Linked DNA regions of Homo sapiens. The protein of the gene in region 1 interacts with the protein of each later gene in a biochemical or structural test. Each region holds a gene or a part of one and is shown in the gene's direction. Other genes may lie near its edges.

What was found. The genes of interacting proteins can lie anywhere in the genome.
Region 2: the proteins of SF1 (region 1) and HDAC5 form a complex in vitro, tested with the Homo sapiens proteins (one study listed by BioGRID).
Region 3: the proteins of SF1 (region 1) and ZNF461 form a complex in vitro, tested with the Homo sapiens proteins (one study listed by BioGRID).

What each region holds. Positions count from the first base shown.
Region 1 is NC_000011.10:64,764,106-64,769,082, reverse strand, and holds the end of SF1 (splicing factor 1), read left to right. Parts: coding exon 1-61; intron 62-796; coding exon 797-977; intron 978-1,238; coding exon 1,239-1,512; coding exon of another isoform or gene 1,513-1,516; intron 1,517-1,831; coding exon 1,832-1,891; intron 1,892-2,003; coding exon 2,004-2,183; intron 2,184-2,927; coding exon 2,928-3,265; 3' UTR 3,266-3,564; coding exon of another isoform or gene 3,565-3,694; 3' UTR 3,695-4,477; downstream 4,478-4,977. UniProt on the Homo sapiens protein: Necessary for the ATP-dependent first step of spliceosome assembly. Binds to the intron branch point sequence (BPS) 5'-UACUAAC-3' of the pre-mRNA. May act as transcription repressor.
Region 2 is NC_000017.11:44,084,329-44,092,861, reverse strand, and holds part of HDAC5 (histone deacetylase 5), read left to right. Parts: intron 1-55; coding exon 56-186; intron 187-334; coding exon 335-481; intron 482-577; coding exon 578-690; intron 691-1,030; coding exon 1,031-1,162; intron 1,163-1,369; coding exon 1,370-1,592; intron 1,593-4,263; coding exon 4,264-4,475; intron 4,476-5,165; coding exon 5,166-5,450; intron 5,451-6,124; coding exon 6,125-6,290; intron 6,291-7,706; coding exon 7,707-7,840; intron 7,841-8,186; coding exon 8,187-8,307; intron 8,308-8,533. UniProt on the Homo sapiens protein: Responsible for the deacetylation of lysine residues on the N-terminal part of the core histones (H2A, H2B, H3 and H4).
Region 3 is NC_000019.10:36,641,525-36,650,057, reverse strand, and holds part of ZNF461 (zinc finger protein 461), read left to right. Parts: intron 1-6,195; coding exon 6,196-6,264; intron 6,265-6,283; exon of another isoform or gene 6,284-6,470; intron 6,471-6,491; exon of another isoform or gene 6,492-6,865; intron 6,866-8,533. UniProt on the Homo sapiens protein: May be involved in transcriptional regulation.

The sequences.
Region 1 (4,977 bases):
CCACAGTGTGTACCAAGTGTGGAGGGGCTGGCCACATTGCTTCAGACTGTAAATTCCAAAGGTGAGGGGCTGGCTCTTGCGGTTTCCTGGTAGCCTGCGATGTGCAGGACAACTTTTCTGGCACATTCATTGGTTGCTGTTAATCTTACCAAGAGAAACATCCTTTCTGTTAGTGTGGTCTGTAATGGTGTGATTTAAAGCCCAGGATGATTAGAAATAGGCTGTACAGATACCCCTGTTTGTTTGTCTTGAGCCCAAGAAAACTGGAAGTTTCCATTTTGGGTATGTTTTTACTGGGGCTCAATAGGAAATTCACTGCTTTTGCTGTTCAGAATTGGTTCAAGAAGACTAAGCAATCTCTACAGATTTCTGACCAGTTGCAAGTCAGCACTCGATATCAACACTTTCTGACTGGCTGGCGAATATGTAAGGTTTTGTTTAGGAAGTTCGTTCTGGCAGTTGTGCCAGTCTTGCATAGATTTTCCTTTCCTCAAACTGGGAATGAAGTTTGATGAAATTGACTTGAGAGAACCTGTGCTTCATCGGTGCTCAGGGTCTCCTGTGCTCTTCGCCCAGGGGCCCCTCTACTCTGGTGATCCCAGATGCAGAACTGGGCACGAAACTGAAGATCTGATGAGACTGTTGAGAGCCATGCCCAGTAAGGGGTTAGAAAGATGTGTGATGATCTGGTGATTGAATTCTTCAGAACTTTCCATATGTTGGTTCCTCAGGATAAAAGCTTCCTTCTTAACAAGTTTTTCCCCTTTCTCTGTTTGTGTCCCCCACCCCACTTCAGGCCTGGTGATCCTCAGTCAGCTCAGGATAAAGCACGGATGGATAAAGAATATTTGTCCCTCATGGCTGAACTGGGTGAAGCACCTGTCCCAGCATCTGTGGGCTCCACCTCTGGGCCTGCCACCACACCCCTGGCCAGCGCACCTCGTCCTGCTGCTCCCGCCAACAACCCACCTCCACCGGTGAGCCTGGGGGCTGGCTCTCTTGGTCTGGCTTCCCCATTCTCTACTGCAGAGACTGGGAGCTATGGCCACGTGGTTTGGGTAGAGCAGACAATGGATGTGGATGGCAACATTGTTCTTCCGGGATCTCAGGCCAGTTTGGGGACTTCTCACTTCGGGAAGACCTTGTTCTTGTGTTCTGGTCCTGTGTCATAACCCGAAGAACAATGTTGCCACTAGGAGGCGCAGGCAGGGACGTTGGCAGGAAATGCTCTCACGTAGTCTCTCATGTCTACCACCCAGAGCCGCCCACCCTGGATGAATTCTGGCCCTTCAGAGAGTCGGCCCTACCACGGCATGCATGGAGGTGGTCCTGGTGGGCCCGGAGGTGGCCCCCACAGCTTCCCACACCCATTACCCAGCCTGACAGGTGGGCATGGTGGACATCCCATGCAGCACAACCCCAATGGACCCCCACCCCCTTGGATGCAGCCACCACCACCACCGATGAACCAGGGCCCCCACCCTCCTGGGCACCATGGCCCTCCTCCAATGGGTAAGTAAGTGTCAGACCAGAAACCTTGGGGGCTTTGGGATAAGCAAGGGGTTACGTCAGGTCGCTGTTGGCTAGAAGCAGCTCTCAAGTGGCTGGGCAATGTGCTGGGTCTGCCTGGCTTGCCAGGGTTGTGGCTCTGGAAGGAGCAAGACTCCATTCTGGTTCAGGGAGTGATTCTGTGTTGGGTAAGCACAGACCTGCCTTTTACAGGCATGGTTTTCAGAACTCGCGTAAGGATAGCAACTGAGGTTATCACAGGGGTGGCTTCCCTGGCCAGTTCCAATGTCCTGCTAAGTCCCTGCTCTTTCCTTCCATCAAGATCAGTACCTGGGAAGTACGCCTGTGGGCTCTGGGGTCTATCGCCTGCATCAAGGAAAAGGTAATGGCTGTCTGCTGGCTGTGGGTCTTCACCTAGGCTTGGGTGAGTGGGGGTTCTGGCCCAAGTCCCCGCCTTTCCCTGAGGCCTCATCTTTGCCTCCACCTGTCCACAGGTATGATGCCGCCACCACCTATGGGCATGATGCCGCCGCCGCCGCCGCCTCCCAGTGGGCAGCCCCCACCCCCTCCCTCTGGTCCTCTTCCCCCATGGCAACAACAGCAGCAGCAGCCTCCGCCACCCCCTCCGCCCAGCAGCAGTATGGCTTCCAGTACCCCCTTGCCATGGCAGCAAAGTGAGTAGAATATTTTGGGCTTGTGGGGGTGGGTGGGATGGGGGTGGGGCTGACAGGAACCATAGAGCCTCACACAAGCAGGCAGGTGTCTTGGGATGAGCCCCTGGGCTCTGCTGGGGTTGTAAACAGAAAGGGCCTCCTGGTCCAGGGGGTGGAGGGGCATCTTGAAGAGGAGAGCTGATGTTTGGTGTGGTTGTGTCTGGGGAGAGGTTCGTGGGGGCCTGGAGGGGAGCCTGCTATTGTAGGTAGGGGGCCAGAAGTCCAGACCCTCGCAGGCTGAGTGAGCGGCTGGCTGGACTGAGCCTGGTGCATATGGGTCGAGTGGGATGGTGCATGCTTGCTCTGGCAAGGGCTGCGATTGGGGTGAGAGACTGCAGAGGTGGGACTGGGCAGTGGGGAGACAGCAGCTGTGGCCTTGAGGTTGAATGTGCCGTTCGGTGGTGGCGGCGGCTGGGCGGAGGGACATCAGAGCTGTTCTTGTGTCTGGTACCTTCCCCTCAGCCCTTCCAGGGGCATTGGTGACAAAGGGCTTACTCTGTTAAGCCCAGAGACCTCGAGGCTGACCCCAGGGTAGTCCTGCCCACCCCTCCACTCCCCATCACCAGCCCCGCCCACCCGCCCCCCACCACCGTACCGCATGCCAAGCAAGGAGCAGGCGCCCCTCGCCCCCATCCCAAGGCAGCAGCCGCAGACAGCCGCGGTGTGCCCCCGCGCGTGTGACCTTGGGCTTCTTTACCACCCCAGATACGACGACTACCACCACGAGCGCTGGCACAGGGTCCATCCCGCCATGGCAACAGCAGCAGGCGGCTGCCGCAGCTTCTCCAGGAGCCCCTCAGATGCAAGGCAACCCCACTATGGTGCCCCTGCCCCCCGGGGTCCAGCCGCCTCTGCCGCCTGGGGCCCCTCCCCCTCCGCCGCCTCCACCGCCTGGTTCCGCCGGCATGATGTATGCCCCGCCCCCTCCTCCTCCGCCTCCCATGGACCCTTCTAACTTTGTCACCATGATGGGCATGGGGGTGGCGGGCATGCCGCCCTTCGGGATGCCTCCAGCTCCCCCACCGCCTCCACCACAGAACTAGACTTGTTTTTTAAGAAAATATATATTATATATAGAGAGAATTGGTCTCGTTTAAACACGCCGAACCTCACCATATGGAGCCAGACATTGGGACGCACGCATGTGATTGTGTGTGCACGCATGTGTGTGTGTGCACGCACTGGGCTGGGCCAAGCGACTGAGGATTCGCTTGGGAACGGGCAGGTGGTAGTAGGGGCGCCAGCTTGGGCTCTCCTGGCGCCCCGTAGCATCGAGTGTCTTCTTTGTCTTCTTTCTCTCCTCACCCAACTCCCTTTGCCTCTCCCCAAACCGGGCCGCCAGGATCCCTCCCCGCGGCGGCGATGGCCCGAGCCATGAGAGTGAGGACTTTCCGCGCCCATTGGTGACCCTTCCAGGCAGACAGCCTCAGCAACGCCCCTGGTGGACAGGATGGTTCGGCAAAGCAGCCTGAGTTATTTTTGTGGACGGAATCGGAACACGCTGGCTCCATATCGTGAAATTTTTATTAATTTTTTTCTTTTTCCTTTGTTACTTCTTTATCTTTTCCTTTCTTCAGACTCCGTCCAAGGAGATGCTCTCCCCGGTCTTCTGCTGCAATTTAGATTCCTTTCCCTTCTCTCCAGTTCTCCTTCCCTTACCAAGGAGAGGGGAGCAAATGGTTTTGGGCAAGGGCTTTGGCCATTCATGTCAAGCTGGTTGTGGGTTTTTCAAGGTGCCATAGCCACCCCCAAAGATGTTTGTTTAAAGCGTGGGGTTTTTTAATCTCTGCCACCCTTGTCAAGGGAGTCTTGTAAAGTTGCCGAGGGTAGGTTCATCTCCAGGTTTCGGGATTCCCATCCGTCCTGGCGATCCTGCCAGCAGTGGGTGGGCAGCCTGAGCTCCCTCGGGCTCGCCTGCCAGCCTGGAGTTCTTCCTGTGCTCCTTGATCACCTGAGCTGCCTCAGATTCCATTTGGTCCTCTCCTTCCTGGAAGGCTTCCTTTTATGTTTTGTTTTAATCCCAAATGTCTGAATGTTTTGCAGTGTGTAGGGGTTTGAGCCCCTTGTTCATTCTCCTTCCTTTTTCCTCCCGCTTCCCTCTCCATGAAGTGATTCTGTTGACAATAATGTATACTGCGCGTTCTCTTCACTGGTTTATCTGCAGAAATTTCTCTGGGCTTTTTTCGGTGTTAGATTCAACACTGCGCTAAAGCGGGGATGTTCCATTGAATAAAAGAGCAGTGTGGTTTTCTGGGTCTGCTTCTTTATTTTCTTTTTAATGCCTGCCCCGCCCGGTTTTTCTTTTCACATAAACTTCCTCTACCACCAGCAGCAGCAGCAGCACCAAAGGTGCCTTAACTTTCGTTCAGCACCAGGTCCGGGGGGGTGAGACTGTGGGTGGTTAATTAGGGAAGCCCACCACCTGCCTCCTGTGTGTGGCTTTGGTGGTGGGAGCTCAGTGTGTGGGTGGCTCCACAGTCTCCCCTTTGGTGACTAGTTAACATCGCTGAGAACCAATTTTGCCCCTCCTTGTTCACTGCTCATTTTTCTAGTCTCTGTCCTTTGAAGGCTTTTTCCTGGGGCTCAGACGTCCACGTTTGATGAGCTCCAGTGGTGATTTGTGCCTGGAAGCTGCCACCTAAGGCCCTGGGCCTGGGGAGGCATCAACACTAAAGGTCAAGCCAACTAATCCTGCCTGTCAGGCACAGAGCAGCTAAAATTAAAACCGCCAAGTGGCTTTTTTCCTTCTCTGCTG
Region 2 (8,533 bases), on another chromosome or scaffold:
GCAGACTGGGTGATAACCTAGATCTGCTTCCATCCCCACCCCCCCCCCACCCCAGGGGAGCCCACCATGCTTCTTTGGACCAGAGTTCCCCTCCCCAGAGCGGCCCCCCTGGGACGCCTCCCTCCTACAAACTGCCTTTGCCTGGGCCCTACGACAGTCGAGACGACTTCCCCCTCCGCAAAACAGGTGAGTGAGTCCCCCACCTGGCCTCCCAGAATATGGCTCCTGGGAGGCAGAGGTGGGCTTGTGGCAGTGTCAGCCCTGACCCCAGTGGGCTCAGCTGCAGATGTGTGCTGCTGTGCGCGTATCTGAACCTCGGTTACCTTCTCTCCAGCCTCTGAACCCAACTTGAAAGTGCGTTCAAGGCTAAAACAGAAGGTGGCTGAGCGGAGAAGCAGTCCCCTCCTGCGTCGCAAGGATGGGACTGTTATTAGCACCTTTAAGAAGAGAGCTGTTGAGATCACAGGTGCCGGGCCTGGGGGTAAGGGCTGCTCTCATGTACCTGTTCTGAGGGTCTGGGAATCAGGGGTCGGGGGTAGTTCACAGCAGGCCCAGGTGACAGCCACTTCTCCTATAGCGTCGTCCGTGTGTAACAGCGCACCCGGCTCCGGCCCCAGCTCTCCCAACAGCTCCCACAGCACCATCGCTGAGAATGGCTTTACTGGCTCAGTCCCCAACATCCCCACTGAGGTACAGGCCTGGCTGGGGGCTGGTGGGGCGGGGACAGAGTTGCTCCTTCCCATGGAAGAAAGAGTGCAGCTCCTTCCAGTCTGTCTGCCTGAGTGCCCAGCAGAGACCTCTCTGCCCACATGAATAGGCTGGAGGATCCTTGCTTGGACTTAATTGCATTGAAGGGGAATTTGTCCCACAGGACTATGAAGAGCCCTGATGGCTCAGTCTCCCTCAGTGGGAGCTCAGGGTAGAGGGAACTGGGCACCATTCAGAGACCTTGGCCTTGGCCCCAGGTTGCCCTCCCTTGTTGCCTCCCCTTTGTGCACTCTCATGCCTGTCTCTTCTGACTGCTCCCCAGATGCTCCCTCAGCACCGAGCCCTCCCTCTGGACAGCTCCCCCAACCAGTTCAGCCTCTACACGTCTCCTTCTCTGCCCAACATCTCCCTAGGGCTGCAGGCCACGGTCACTGTCACCAACTCACACCTCACTGTAAGTACAGGGCATATACCCCATCTTCCCTCTGGTGTTGAGGTCACAGGTCCTGCATGCCCCCAGCTGGGGTTTTCCCCTTCCAAGGCCCTAAGGGAGATCTGTTGGCCCTACCCAGAGCTTGGGGGGTAGATAGTGGGTAGATGGGGATGCTAGTCCAAAGTTGGCAGGACTGAGGCTGTATAAGCCCCTCCCTTCACCCCCCAGGCCTCCCCGAAGCTGTCGACACAGCAGGAGGCCGAGAGGCAGGCCCTCCAGTCCCTGCGGCAGGGTGGCACGCTGACCGGCAAGTTCATGAGCACATCCTCTATTCCTGGCTGCCTGCTGGGCGTGGCACTGGAGGGCGACGGGAGCCCCCACGGGCATGCCTCCCTGCTGCAGCATGTGCTGTTGCTGGAGCAGGCCCGGCAGCAGAGCACCCTCATTGCTGGTGAGTGGACAGGTAGCTGTGCAAGGGAGGGGGCTAAGGTCAGGACCAACTGTCAGGGATACTCTCCAACCCTGTCACAGTTCCCCTTAGCAGAATCAACAGCATCAGTGATTTCTTCCACATTCTGGAAACATGGGATACCTACAGGATGCCAGGCACTGTTCTTGACAAAATCTGCTGCCATCTTGGCGTTCACATCCCAGAGCAGTGTTGTTCAGTAGAAACATAACACAATCTACATACGTAATTTCTAGCATCCACATTAAAAAATGTAAAAAGAAGGCCGGGCGCGGTGGATCACGCCTGAAATCCCAGCACTTTGGGAGGCTGAGGCGGGTGGATCACGAGGTCAGGAGATTGAGACCATTCTGGCTAACATGGTGAAACCCCGTCTCTACTAAAAATACAAAAAATTAGCCGGGCGTGGTGGTGGGCACCTGTAGTCCCAGCTACTCAGGAGGCTGAGGCAGGAGAACAGTGTGAACCTGGGAGGCGGAGCTTGCAGTGAGCCGAGATCGTGCCACTGCACTCCAGCCTGGGGCACAGAGCGTGAGACTCCGTCTCAAAAAAATAAAAAAATTAAAAGAAGCAAGTGGAGCCACACATGGTGGCTCAAGCCTGTGAGCCCGGCACTTTGGAGGCCAAGGCAGGTGGATCACTTGAGGTCAGGAGCTTGAGACCAGCCTGGCCAACATGGTGAAATCCCATCTCTACTAAAAATACAAAAATTAGCTGGGCGTGGTGGCGGGCACCTGTAATCCCAGCTACTCGGGAGGCTGAGGCAGGAAAATTGCTTGAACCCAGGAGGCGGAGGTTGCAGTGAGCCGAGATCGCTCCATTGCACCCAAGCCTGGGCAACAGAGCGACACTCTGTCTCAAAAAAAAGAGAAGCAAGTGGAATTAATTTCACCACATATATTTAACTCATTATATCCAGAATATTACAATTTCGGTAATACATATGCAGTTATTCTTTCTATTTTTTAATTTTTGTAGAGACAGGATCTTGCTATGTTACCCAGGCTGGTCTTTTTTTCGAGACTGAGTCTCGCTCTGTTGCCCAAGCTAGAGTGCAGTGGCGTGATCTTGGCTCACTGCAACCTCTGCCTCCCGGGTTCAAGCAATTCTCCTGCCTCAGCCTCCCAAGTAGTTGGGATTATAGGCGCCTGCCACCGCGCCTGGCTAATTTTTGTATTTTTAATAGAGCTGGGGTTTCACCATCTTGGCCAGGCTGGTCTTGAACTCCTGACCTCAGGTGATCCGTTCGCCTCGGCCTCCCAAAGTGCTGGGATTACAGGTGTGAGCCGCCATGCTCATCCTTTTTTTTTTTTTTTTTTTGAGACAGAATCTCACTTTGTTGCCCAGGCTGGAGTGCAGTAAGCAGGATCTCTGCTCACTGCACCCTCCACCTCCTGGGTTCAAGCTTCAAGCGGTTCTTTTGCTTCAGCCTCCTGAGTAGTTAAGACTACAGGCGTGTGCCACCACACCCAGCTAATTTTTTTTTTTTTTTTTTTTTTTTTTTGAGACGAAGTTTCACTCTTGTTGCCCAGGCTGGAGTGCAGTGGCAAGATCTCGGCTCACTGCAACCTCTGCCTCTCGAGTTCAAGTGATTCTCCTGCCTAAGCCTCCCAAGTAGCTGGGATTACAGGCATGTGCCACCATGCCTGGCTTAATTTTTTGTATTTTTATTAGAGAAGAAGTTTCACCACGTTGGCCAGGCTGGTCTTGAACTCCTGACCTCAGATGGTCCACCCGCCTTGGCCTCCCAAAGTGTTGGAATTACAGGCGTGAGCCACTGCGCCTGGCCTAATTTTTGTATTTTTAGTAGAGACGGGGTTTCACCATGTTGGCCAAGTTGGTCTTGAACTCCTGACCTCAAGTGATCCACCTGCCTTGGCCTCCCAAAGCGCTGGGATTACGGGTGTGAGCCACCGCACCCAGCTGCCCAGGTTGGTCTTGAACTCCTGGGCTCAAGCCATCCCCCTGCCTTGGACTCCCAAAGTGCTGGGATTACAGGTGTGAGCCACTGTGCCTGGCCAATATGCAGTTACCAATGAGATATTTTGGTTTTTGTTTCATACTCTTTGAAATCTAGTGTATACTTCACACTTATATCACATTTCAGTTTAGACAGGTTGTGTGCAAGGGCTCAGCAGTCACATGTAACTAGTAGCTATGGGACTAGACAGCACAACTTTAGACAGCCCTTAAGTACCAGGGCTGTCTAAAGAGCCCTGGCACCAGAAGAGGTTCTGCTTGAAAGATACATGATCCTGGCCCTAGGGCTTCCTAGCCTGGCGGGATCCACGGGGAGGATCCATGATCAGGGAGGCCTTGTTGCACTTAGGGAGAAAAGTCATTGTTCGTTCAGAGGGCTCAAGACTAAATGTATACTCAGTTTATTCAGTTAAGGAAATCGAAGGGAAAAGATGGTGAATCCAGGAAGGCTTGCTGGAGGTGGTACCTTAGAGCTGTGAAACTCTTCATTCATGGGGAAGAGGAAGAATGGAGCTCAGGTTTGGGTGGGGGGTGCTTCAGGTCCCCCAGGGTTTTTCCTGAGTATATAGGTGGTGATATGCCAGAGGGGGTTGTGGGGGCAAGATGCAGGGTCGGTGGGAGGGCAGTCAGGTGCCCTGACAATGGTGCTTAGTCATCACCCCCAACTCCGTAGTGCCACTCCACGGGCAGTCCCCACTAGTGACGGGTGAACGTGTGGCCACCAGCATGCGGACGGTAGGCAAGCTCCCGCGGCATCGGCCCCTGAGCCGCACTCAGTCCTCACCGCTGCCGCAGAGTCCCCAGGCCCTGCAGCAGCTGGTCATGCAACAACAGCACCAGCAGTTCCTGGAGAAGCAGAAGCAGCAGCAGCTACAGCTGGGCAAGGTGAGCCTGGAAAGGTGAATGGCCTGGGGCTGTGGTGGGGGCAGGACACAGGAGAGTACCAGGCTGGCAGAAAAGTCCTCCTTTCAGGCCAGACACGGTGGCTCGCGCCTGATTGGGAGGCCGAGGTGGGCAGATCGCCTGAGGTCAGGAGTTCGAGACCAGCCTGGCCAACATGGTGAAACCCCCGTCTCTACTAAAAATACAAAAATTAGCCAGGCGTGGTGGTAGGCACCTATAATAATCCCAGCTACTCGGGAGGCTGAGGCAGGAGAATTGCTTGAACCTGGGAGATGGAGGTTGCACTGAGCCCAGATCGCACCATTGCACTGCAGCCTGGGTGAGAAGAGCGAGACCGTCTCAAAAAAACAAACAAAAATTAGCTGGGCGTGGTGGCGTGCGCCTGTAACCCCAGTCACTGGGGAGGCTGAGGCAGGAGAATCGCTTGAATTTGGAAGGCGGAGGTTGCAGTGAGCCGAGATCGTGCCACTGCATGCCAGGCTGGGCGACAGAGGGAGACTCTGTCTCAAAAAAAAAAAAAGTCCTCTCAGAGGAGCTACCTCACCTTTTTCTAATTCACATAGAAGCTCTACCTGGAAGAAGGGAGGGAGGGAAGGATAGACTGTTCTGGGTTTTAGGCTGCACAGCTGCTCCCCAACTCCCAGCTGATGTGCCCCCATATTCTGTTATCAGATCCTCACCAAGACAGGGGAGCTGCCCAGGCAGCCCACCACCCACCCTGAGGAGACAGAGGAGGAGCTGACGGAGCAGCAGGAGGTCTTGCTGGGGGAGGGAGCCCTGACCATGCCCCGGGAGGGCTCCACAGAGAGTGAGAGCACACAGGAAGACCTGGAGGAGGAGGACGAGGAAGACGATGGGGAGGAGGAGGAGGATTGCATCCAGGTTAAGGACGAGGAGGGCGAGAGTGGTGCTGAGGAGGGGCCCGACTTGGAGGAGCCTGGTGCTGGATACAAAAAAGTGAGCCCCGTCCCTGGTCCCAGTCCTTGGTCACCACCCCTCTGTCCTTCTCCACCCCTGCCTCTGCCCTTGTCTTTCCCTCTCCCCCATCTGCAGTTTCCAGGCTGTGCAGGAGCAGCTTTCTGTAGAGAGCAAAAGGGGAGTGGGAAGGAGGCCGGTGGGGAGAAGGGGGAGCTGTTTGTGTTGATCTCAGAGTTGTGTCTGTCCTAGGCTGCCAGTTCCCTCCCTGTGTCTGTGATACTGGCCTGCCTCTCTGCTTGTGTGTCTGTGTATGCATGCGTCGGTCCCTGTGCGTGCCTGTGCGTGTGTGTACACACACGCCCCCGCTGTTACTACTGTCTGCCTCGCGCCTAGCTGGCACTCCATTCATTGCGGACACAGCCGAGCCCTCCGGGCCTGACTCATCCCGCCCCCACCCCGCCCCCGCCCCCACCCCTCCCAGCCTCTTACCTCAATGCTACTCTTTGATGTGACTCATCACATCTCCCCCATCCCTCCCCATCTCAGAGGAGATGTGTCTCCTGTCCCTGGAGGGAGCAAGTGGGAGGAGGTGGGGGAAGGAGACTTGGAAGAAAAGGGCTGGATTGGGGCCCCACTGGAGGCCCTGACAGGGCCTGCCCTCACCCCTGTCCTGGCTGAGTCTGACCCAGGCCCCCTCCCATTCTCCCCTCCAGCTGTTCTCAGATGCCCAGCCGCTGCAGCCTTTGCAGGTGTACCAGGCGCCCCTCAGCCTGGCCACTGTGCCCCACCAGGCCCTGGGCCGTACCCAGTCCTCCCCTGCTGCCCCTGGGGGCATGAAGAGCCCCCCAGACCAGCCCGTCAAGCACCTCTTCACCACAGGTGAGCCCCCACCAACTGTTAGGTCCTTCTGCCAGGCACCAGAGGGCCTGTGTGTGGTGTCTGCCCCATGGCAGGGGGAAGAGGCTGCTGGGGCCCCTTAGGCACCCTGAAAGGAGGGGACACAGGCCTTCGTTCTCTCCCTGTACCCCAGAGCTGTTCATGGTAGCGGCAGGGCCTTCTGCCTCAGCCGGGAGAGTGGGTAGCGTCTTTCTCACCCCGCTGAAGGAAGGACTGCCCCACAGCCTGAAGTGCTGGGTAGAGAGAGCCTGCTGTCCCTGTTGGGCCCTGACCTTCTACCTTCCCTTCCTTCTCCCTGTGAGGTCTGGGATGAGACCAGAGTCCTCTTCCCTATGAAGCTGCCACAGGCTGGGCTCTGGGGGGACACAGACGTGCCTGAGGGTGGCCCTGTATCACCCGTGGAGAGTAAGACACGGGTTTGGCAGGAGGGGGAAAGCAGGAGGTGCCGTGAGAAGGGTGCAGCTGAGGAGGCACAGCTGGCAGAGATGAGACTCATGCGAGTGTCCAGGGCAGCCTTGCTGGGGCTTGAGGAGCAGGGAAGCTTCTGATAGGCAATAATGGAGCAAAGGAATTTCAGGAGGAGTCAAGAGGGGGCAAAGGCTGGAGAGGAAAGGCCAGGTGCAGTGGCTCACACCTGTAATCCCAGCATTTTGGGAGGCCAAGGTGGGAGGATCACTTGAGCCCAGGAGTTTGAGACCAACGTGAGCAACATAGTGAGACCCCGTCTCTTTAAAATAAAAAATAAAAAAATAGGTTGGGTGCAGTGGCTCACGCCTGTAATCCCAGCACTTTAGGAGGCTGAGGTGGGTGGATTACCTGAGGTCAGGAGTTCGAGACCAGCCTGGCCAACATGGTAAAACCCCGTCTCTACTAAAAATACAAAAATTAGCCAGGCGTGGTGGCACATGCCTGTAATCCCAGCTACTCGGGAGGCTGAGGCAGGAGAATTGCTTGAGCCCAGGAGGCAGAGGTTGCAGTGAGCCGAGATCGTGCCACTGGACCTGGCCGACAGAGCGAGACTCTGTCTCAAAAAAAAACAAAAGAAAAGCTAGGTGTGGTAGTGCCTATAGTCCCAGCTACTCAGAACGCTGAGGTGGGAGGATCGCTTGAGCCCAGGGTGGTGGGGGCAGTGGTTGAGGCTGCAGTGAGCCATGATAGCACCACTACACACTCCACTCCAGCCTGGGTGACAGAGTGAGACCCTGTTTCAAAGAAAAAAAAAAAAAAGCTGGAGAGGAGAGGGGGCAGGTTTGTGGCAGGGTGGCTGCAGTGGCCATGGGGAGGTGTTTGGACCTGGGGGTTGGAGACAGCTCCATGAGCCCTGCTGAGGATCATGGTAGCCAGGCTGGGATCCTGGGCCCAGAGCAGTGCTGGCTGACACATAGGTCTGTGGCCCAGGTGTGGTCTACGACACGTTCATGCTAAAGCACCAGTGCATGTGCGGGAACACACACGTGCACCCTGAGCATGCTGGCCGGATCCAGAGCATCTGGTCCCGGCTGCAGGAGACAGGCCTGCTTAGCAAGTGCGAGGTAAGGGAGCCCCTCCTTCTTCTGGCTCTCAACTTAAATCCAGCCTTTGTTTCCCTGTTAGATAAGCCTCTCTTCATGCTTCTTCCTCATCCTCTCTTCAGCCCCAGACTTCGGGGCCAGTTCTCCCACCACCCCGTTCCATCCCTTGCAGCCTGTTTTCCCCCATGGTCCCCAGCTGAGTGGGGGGGATCCGGGAGTAAGGTCATGACAGAGCCAGGATCTACTTTCTGAAAATATTTGGATCTCCTGAGGCCAGGAAGTGGCTCTGTGTGCCCTGGCTATGGGGCAGAGAGGCTCTGAGAGAGCTGTGCCTTTGTGTGACCCCTCTTACTGATCCTCCTGGCAGCGGATCCGAGGTCGCAAAGCCACGCTAGATGAGATCCAGACAGTGCACTCTGAATACCACACCCTGCTCTATGGGACCAGTCCCCTCAACCGGCAGAAGCTAGACAGCAAGAAGTTGCTCGGTGAGCTGGCACATGGGTGGGCGGGCAGGCATGTTCAGTGTCAGGGTGGGATGGGGGCTCTCAGGAAGACTGCCTGACCAGGCTAGGAGGGTTGTCCCCACGGGCATAGGGCATTGCTGCGGCAGAGGTGGCACAATTATCACGTCACACACCTCCAGAGGGCGCCACTAAAATAGAGCATGCTGTGGGGCGCGGTGCAGGAGGATGGAAGTGCTCGGTTGGGGGG
Region 3 (8,533 bases), on another chromosome or scaffold:
GATTACAGGTACCCACCACCATGCCTGGCTAATTTTTGTATTTTTAGTAGGGACGGGGTTTCACCATGTTGGTCAGGCTGGTCTCAAACTCCTGACCTCATGATCCACCCACCTTGGCCTCCCAAAGTGCTGGGATTACAGGTGTGAGCCACCACGCCCAGCCAGATTATTTTTTAAATACTTTTAATTGAAAAATACAAATTGTATGTATTTATGGTCTACAATATGTTTTGATATATGTATATGTTGTGAAACGATTAAATCTAGCTAATTAACATATCTGTTACCTGACATGCTTCTTTTTTTGTTCTTCCACAATAGTTATCTTATAAACTTATTTTTTTGTGTGTGGGAGAACATTTAACATCTACTCTCCTAGAAGTTTTTAAGTTTACAGTACACTGTTTCAGCCAGGCGTGGTGGCTCAGGCCGGGCGCAGTGGCTCACACCTGTAATCCCAGCACTTTGGGAGGCTGAGGAGGGTGGATTACCTGAGGTCAGGATTTCAAGACCAGCCTGGCCAACATGGTGAAACCCCATCTCTACTACAAATACAAAAAATTAGCTGGGCACAATGGCCCAGCCTATAATCCCAGCTACTCAGGAAGCTGAGGCAGGAGAATTGCTTGAACCTGGGAGGCAGAGGTTGCAGTGAGCCAAGATTATGCCATTGCACTCCAGCCTGGGCGCCAAGAGTGAGACTCTGTCTCAAAAAAAAACATAAATAAATAATAAAATATACTGTTTCAAGAGAATTTAAAATTGATTGGCAAAGCCTTTTTGTGAAGCATGTTTTAAAGTCTTTGTCAGATAATTCCAACATGTGCTTCATCCTTGTATTTGCATTAGTTGATTGCCTTTTCTCCTTCAGATTTTGGTTTTCTTGGTTTTTGGTATGAGAAGTGATTTTCAGTTGTACCTTGGATATTTTCGTTATTATGTTTCAGAGAGTCTTGATTCTATTTAATCAATTTGAGCAAGTAGTTATCCTGTTAGATTTAGTAAAGATCTGATCTACTTTTGTAGGCTTTAGTTCCAATGACAGTTTAGTTTTCAGAACCATTACACTGCTATTCTGATCTGCTCCATACTTCTTGTGCTGCTGGGGCCAACAGGCACATGAAGAGATGTTCAAAATCACTAGCCATTAAGGAAATGCTAGTCACAACCACAATGAGGCTGGGCACGGTGGCTCATGACTGTAATCCCAGCACTTTGGGAGGCCGAAGCAGGTGGATCACTTGAGGTTAGGAGTTCGCGATCAGCCTGGCCAACATGGCGAAACCCCGTCTCTACCAAAAAATACAAAAATTAGCCAGGCATGGTGGCATGCACCTGTAGTCCCAGGTACTTGGGAGGCTGAGGCACAAGAATCACTTGAACCTGGGAGGCGAAGGTTGCAGTGAGCTGAGATTGCACCACTGTACTCCAGCCTGAGTGACAACGAGACTCAGTCTGAAAAACAAAACCAAAAACGAAAACAAAAACAAACAAACAAAAAAGCACACAATGAGATATCACCTCACACTCAATAGGATGGTTAATTTAAAAAAAAAACATAACAAGTGTTGCCAGGAATGTGGAGAAATTTGAACCTTTGTGCACTATTGGTGAGAATGTAAAATGGTACAAGGTATTAGATCATTCTTGCATTGCTGTAAATACCTGAGACTGGGTAATTTGAAAAGAGGTTTAATTGGCTCATGGTTCTGCAGGCTTTATAGGAAGCATGGCCCTGCTCAGCTTCCAGGAAGGCCTCAGGGAGCTTTTATTCATGGTGGAAGGCAAAGCAGGAGCAGGCACTTTACATGGTGAAAGCAGGAGCAAGAGAGAGAGTGGGGGGCGTGGGGAGGTGCCACACATTTTCTTTTTTTTTTTGAAACGGAGTTTCATTCTTGTTGTCCAGGCTGGAAAGCAATGGTGCAATCTCAGCTCACTGCAACCTCCACCTCGGTTTCAAGCGATTCTCCTGCCTCAGCCTCCCGAGTAGGTGGGATTACAGGTGCCTGCCACCACACCCAGCTAATTTTGTATTTTTAGTAGAGACACAGTTTCACCATGATGGTCAACCTGGTCTTGAACTCCTGATCTCAGATAATCTGTCCACCTCGGCCTCCCAGAGTGCTGGGATTACAGGCATGAGCCACCACACCCAGCCCACACACTTTCAAGGACCAGATATCATGAGAACTCACTCACCATCATGAGGATAGCACCAAGGGAATGGTGCTAAACCATTTATGAGAAAACCGCTCCCATAATCCAGTTACTTCCCACTAGGCCCCACCTCCAACACTGGGGATTACAATTCCACATGAGATTTAGAGGGGACACATATCCGAGCTATATCATACAGCCACTATGGAAAACAGTATGGTAATTTCTCAAAACATTAAAAATAGAATTGCCATATAATCAAGCAATTCTACTTCTAGGTATATACGCAAAAGAATTGAAAGTAAATTGAAAGTGGAATTTTAAATTAGAATGTTATTTATTTATTTATTTTTTGCTTTTTTGAGACAGAGTCTTGCTCTGTCACCCAGGCTGGAGTGCACTGGCGCATCTCAGCTCACTGCAACCTCCACCTCCTGGGTTCAAGCGATTCTTCTGCCTCAGCCTCCCAAGTAGCTGGGATTACAGGCACCCACCACCACACCCAGCTAATTTTTGTATTTTTAGTAGAGACAGGGTTTAACCATGTTGGCCAGGCAGGTCTCAAACTACTGACCTCAAGTGATATGCCTATCTCAGCCTCCCAAAGTGCTGAGATTACAAGCGTGAACCACCACACCTGGCCTAAATTAGAAAATTGTTGCATAATGTCAACTACAGCTGAAGAAATTTATATCCTATGATGCAGCAATTTCACTCTGATGTGCATACCTAACAGAAAAGAGTAATTATTTCCACCAAAAGAAATGTACAGGAATGTTCATAGCAGCACTAATCATAATAGTCAACTATTGGAAGCAACCAGAATGTCCATCATTAGGTATATGGGAAAATAAATTGTGTTAGAATGCAATGCTATATATAGTTATCAGTCTCAAACTTTTTATTCTCAGGATGCCTTTATATTCTTAAAAACTATTGAGAACCCCAAGAGCTCTTGCATATGTAGATTATATCCTTCAATATTAACTGTCTTAGAAATTAAATCTAGGAAAAATGAAATATTCATTTAATTCATTTAAAAATAATAAACTATATGTTAACATAAATAAGTTATATTTTCCAAAACAAAACGAAAATAGTTATTGTGAAAAGTGGCAATGTTTTTCATTTTTTGCACGTTTCTTTAATGCTTGGATTAAAAGAAGACACGTGGATCTCACATCTGCCTCTGAATTTAATCTATTAAATTAAAACTCACTAGTCTGTCTTGTTTTTTGAATGGATCTCTTATCTGTGGTACCTGTTTTGTAACATGATGCATTAGTTATTTGGAAAATATTGCTCCAATTAGTTATGCAGATCTTCCAGACTTTGACACATTTTCTTATAAAATAGCCAAAAAATCATACTTGTTAATAACACCACGAATCTAATCAGGTAAGTCTTTAAGTATTTGGAAGCTGTCAAGCTCACAGGGGCTGACACAAACTTTCCTAAAGTCTAATTTTGACCAGGTGTGGCAGCTCATACCTCTAATCCTAGCACTTTGGGAGGCAGAGGAGGGTGGATCACCTGAGGTCAGGAGTTCGAGACCTGCCTGGGTAACATGGTGAAACTCCGTTTCTACTAAAAATACAAAAAATTAGCCGGGCGTGGTGGCACACGCCTGTAATCCCAGCTACTGGGGAGGCTGAGGCAGGAGAATAGCTTGAACCTGGGAGTCGGAAGTTGCAGTGAGCTGAGATCACACCATTGCACTCCAGCCTGGGCAACAAGAGTGAAACTCCATCTCAATCAACAACAATAACAACAACAACAATAACAACAACAACAACAACAACAAAATAGTCAAAATCTGGCCAGGCACGGTGGCTCACGCCTGTAATCCCAGCACTTTGGGAGGCTGAGGCGGGTGGATCATGAGGTCAGAAGTTCCAGACCAGCCTGGCCAACATAGTGAAACCCTGCCTCTACTAAAAATACAAAAATTAGCCGGGCATGGTGGCTCACGCCTGTAGTCCCAGCTACTCAAGAGGCTGAGTCAGGAAAATCGCTTGAACCCGGGTGGTGGAGGTTGCAGTTAGCTGAGTTCGCTCCACTGCATTCCAGCTTGGGAAACAGAGCTAGACTCCATCTCAAAAAAATAAATAAAATAAAGCTTCAGTTATGCAAGATGAGTGGATTCTGAATATCCACATTCAGACTCCAGAATATTATGACTCTAGTTTGCAGTACTGTATTGTATATTTGAAACGTGCTGAAGGTACATGTTTTTTTGTTACCACAAAAAAAAGAAAACAGTTAACTATGTAAGGTGATGAATAGGTTAGTTAGCTGACTGTGGTGATTATTTCACAATGTAAATGTATATCAAATCATCAGGTTGTATCCTTTAAATATATAAATTTTAATTGTCAATTTTCCCTCAATAAAGTGGGAAATAAAGTGTTTCTCAAAAAATACTCAGTGTTTCTCAAAAACAAATATTGAGAAATTTAACTGTGGATGCTATAATTAATATTTATTTACATTGGTGCTGTATGCTAAGAAATAGAAAAAAGTATTTATTAAATATGTAAACACTTTAAAAAATTTTCTTGTGTTGTAAATACTTTACATGAGATCTACCCTCTTAATGGAATTTTAGGTGTACAATGCAGTATTGTCCAGTGTGGGCACAGGGTTATACAACAGATCTTTTTTGTTGTTGTTGAGACAGGGTCTCACTCTGTTACCCATGCTGGAGTGCAGTGGAGTGATCACAGCTCACTGCAGCCTGGACCTCTCAGGCTCAAGCAATCTTCCCACCTCAGCCTCCCAAGTAGCTGGGACCACAGGTACACACCACTACACCCAGCTACATTTCTATTTTTATTTTTTTTTAGTAGAGACAAGGTCTCACTATGTTGTCCAGGCTGGTCTCAAACTCCAGGACTCAAGTAATCCTCCCATCTCAGCCTCCCAAAGTGCTGGGATTACAGATGTGAGCCACCACTCCAGGCCAGATTTTTTAATAATAAAAGTAGTCTCAAAAAATAAACCTGGCCAGGCACGGTGGCTCACACCTCTAATCCCAGCACTTTGGGAGGACGAGGTGGGCAAATCACTTGAGGCCAGGAGTTCAAGACCAGCCTGACCAACGTGGTGAAACCCCGTCTCTACTAAAAATACAAAAAAAATTAGCCGATGTGGTGGCATGTGCCTGTAATCCCAGCTACTTGGGAGGCTGAGGCAGAGAATTGCTTGAACCCGGGAGTCAGAGGCCGCAGTGAGCCGAGATTGCGCCACCGTACTCCAGCCTGGGTGACAGAGCAAGACTCCATCTCAAAAAAAACAAAAACAAAACAAAACAAAAAAAAACACAAAAAACTGGCTGGGCGTGGTGGCTTACGCCTGTAATCCCAGCACTTTGGGAGGCCAAGGCGGGAGGATCACCTGAGGTCAGGAGTTCAAGACCAGCCTGGCCAACATGGTGAAACCCCATCTCTACTAAAAATACAAAAATTAGCCAGATGCGGTGGTTCACGCCTGTAATCCCAGCTATTCAGGAGGCTGAGGCAGGAGAATCGCTTGAACCTGGGAAGTGGAGGTTGCAGTGAGCCAAGATCGCACCATTGCACTCCAGCCCGGGGGACAGAGCGAGACTCCATCTCAAAACAAAACAAAAAACCAATATCCATTTTCAAGTATAAGAAATACATATTCTCTGCTGGGTGTGGTGGCTCACACCTGTAATCCCAGCACTTTGGGAGGCCGAGGTGGGCGGATCACCTGAGGTCAGGAGTTCAAGACCAGCCTGGCTAAGTGGTGAAACCCCGTTTCTACTAAAAATACAAAAAATTAACCAGGCATGGTGGCACGTGCCTGTAATCCCAGCTACTTGGGAGGCTGAAGCAGGAGAATCGCTTGAACCCAGTAGGCGGGGGTTGCAGTGAGCTGAGATTGTGTGATTGCACTCCAGCTTGGGCAACAAGAGCGAAACTCTGTCTAAAAAGAAAAAGAAATAGATATTCTCTTTTTATTGTATAATAAAATATTATTCTAAAATGAAGTATTTATTCTTTTGTTTCCATGTAGGTACATGGAAAACTTGGGGATTTCACAATAATTTCTTGGACAATAATGAGGCTACAGACATAAATGCAGGTATAAATAAATACAGTTTTTAAGAGTACAGTAGAAGTACTGGTAACAAAGTCAGCTAATTTCTGAAAGTACATGTTTATTCCCCAAACCTACTACTCTAGAAACTTCTAGAACACACAGAAATACATAATCACGCATTCTGTTAGATTTCAGAATGTGACGTTATCACACTTCTAGTAGTCTCTCAGAATCTCTCCTGTCCAGTGGTAAGAGAATAAGTAAAAAAGGCAAATGTCTCGGAATTAGTATGAAAATAGCTTTGACCTTATAGACTTCCTGATAGGGTCTCAGGTACCCTCTGTGGTCCTTGGACCACCCATTGAGTACTGCTGCTATATAGTAATGAAAATTAAGAAACTACTACTATTTGTAATATTACAAATGAACCTCACATGTGGTACTGGACAGAAGATGCTGGAGAAAAAAGTACCTCCTATATCATTCCATTTATTGGAAATTCAGAAATAGACAAAAACCACTGCATAGTGTAAGAAGGCAGGATATCGCCTACCTTTGGTGGGTAAGGTAAACCTGGGAAGGGCCTTGAAGGCTTGGGGTTTCTGGTAATGTTCTGTTTCTTGGTTAAGTGGTGGTTTCACAGGTATGTTCACTTAGTAAAAACATCGTCTGTAAGGAAGTGATGTAGAAAAGTGTGTGTTTGTGTTTATATCTGTACATAAATAAGTATGTGTATGAGTGTAGTGGTTGTTGTAAACATGTCCGCTGGCCGAGTGCGGTGGCTCACACCTGTAATCCCAGCACTTTGGGAAGCCAAGGCGGGTGGATGGCCTGAGGTCGGGAGTTCGAGACCAGCCTGGCCAGCATGGTGAAACCCCATCTCAACTAAAACTACAAAAATCTCAACTAAAAATACAAAAATTACAGGTGGTGAGCACCTGTAATCCCAACTACTTGGGAAGCCGAGGCAGGAGAATCACTTGAACCCAGGAGGCGGAGGTTGCAGTGAGCCGAGATCGCACCATTGCACTCCAGCCTGGGCTACAGAGCAAGACTCTGTGCCCCACCCCCCCCCACCAAAAACACACACACACACCATGTCTGCCACTTCTGTGCTTCTGTGACAGTCCTCAAACCAAAAAAAAAAAAAAAAGAAGTCTAACTTCCTGCTTTGAAAATGGGACAGCCCTAAGTGAATTGTTTCCAATAAATAGAAATACTTTGTGATTTCTGAGGCTAGGTCATAAAAGTAGACAGCTTGTGCCTGGCATATGCTCATATGCCCGCCCTCCCTGCCTGCACTTCCCCATATGCTTTTGGAGTCTGGAGTTGCCAGGTAAGAGGGCATCTCTTACCTTGAAACAGCTATGCTGGACACACCATGTAGAGAGACCACATAAGGATAGAAAGCCCCAGGCATCACAGCTGTTACAGTCCCAAGCTTTACATATTTCCTCAGGCCTGGTACCCGACATGTGGGTGGAGGAAGCCATTGGAATGATCCAGCCTGACCAGTGTGTGACTGTCACTAGAGAAATGCCAAGTAAGGAATGCCTGGCTGAGCTCAGTTAATCCTCAGGACTGAAAGACAATAATGATAAATGGGTCTGGTGTGGTGGCTCGTGCCTATAATCTCAGCACTTCGAGGGGCTGAGGCAGGAGAATCACTTGAAACCAGGAGTTCAAGACCGGCCTGGGCAACAAAGTGAGAGCCTTTTCTCTACAAAAAATGATTTAAAAATTAGCAGGGCATAGTGGCACACCCCTATAGTCTCAGCTTCTCCAAAAGCTGAGTGAGGTAGGAGGATTTCTTGAGCTCAGGAGGTCGGGCCTGCAGTGAGCTGTGATTGCACCACTGCGCTCACTCTCGCCTGGGTGACAGAGCATGACTTGGTCTTCACTAATAATTACAACAGCAATAGTAATAATAATAATAAATGACTTACTGTTTTAAGCCACTCAGTTGGAGTGGCTTGTTATAGATAAGCAAGTACATGGTTTATTTATGTATGTGTTTATATATAAAATCAGTGCAGTCGATGTAGGAGTGAATAGAAGCATGGAGAGATGTTCAGTAGTTATTACAAATTTAAGGGCATTAAATGATTATGATTGTCAATTGTTATCTTTGTATTGTTTCTCTTCATCTTAATTCCTTTTCCTTAATAATTCATTCATTCAGCAACTGATTATTGAATACTTATTATATTGTAAAGGTTGTTTTTATAGTGATTTCTCTATCCTTGAGTAGCTTTATGGGTAAAAAAACATATATATATATTATATATATATATATTTTGTTGTTTGTTTG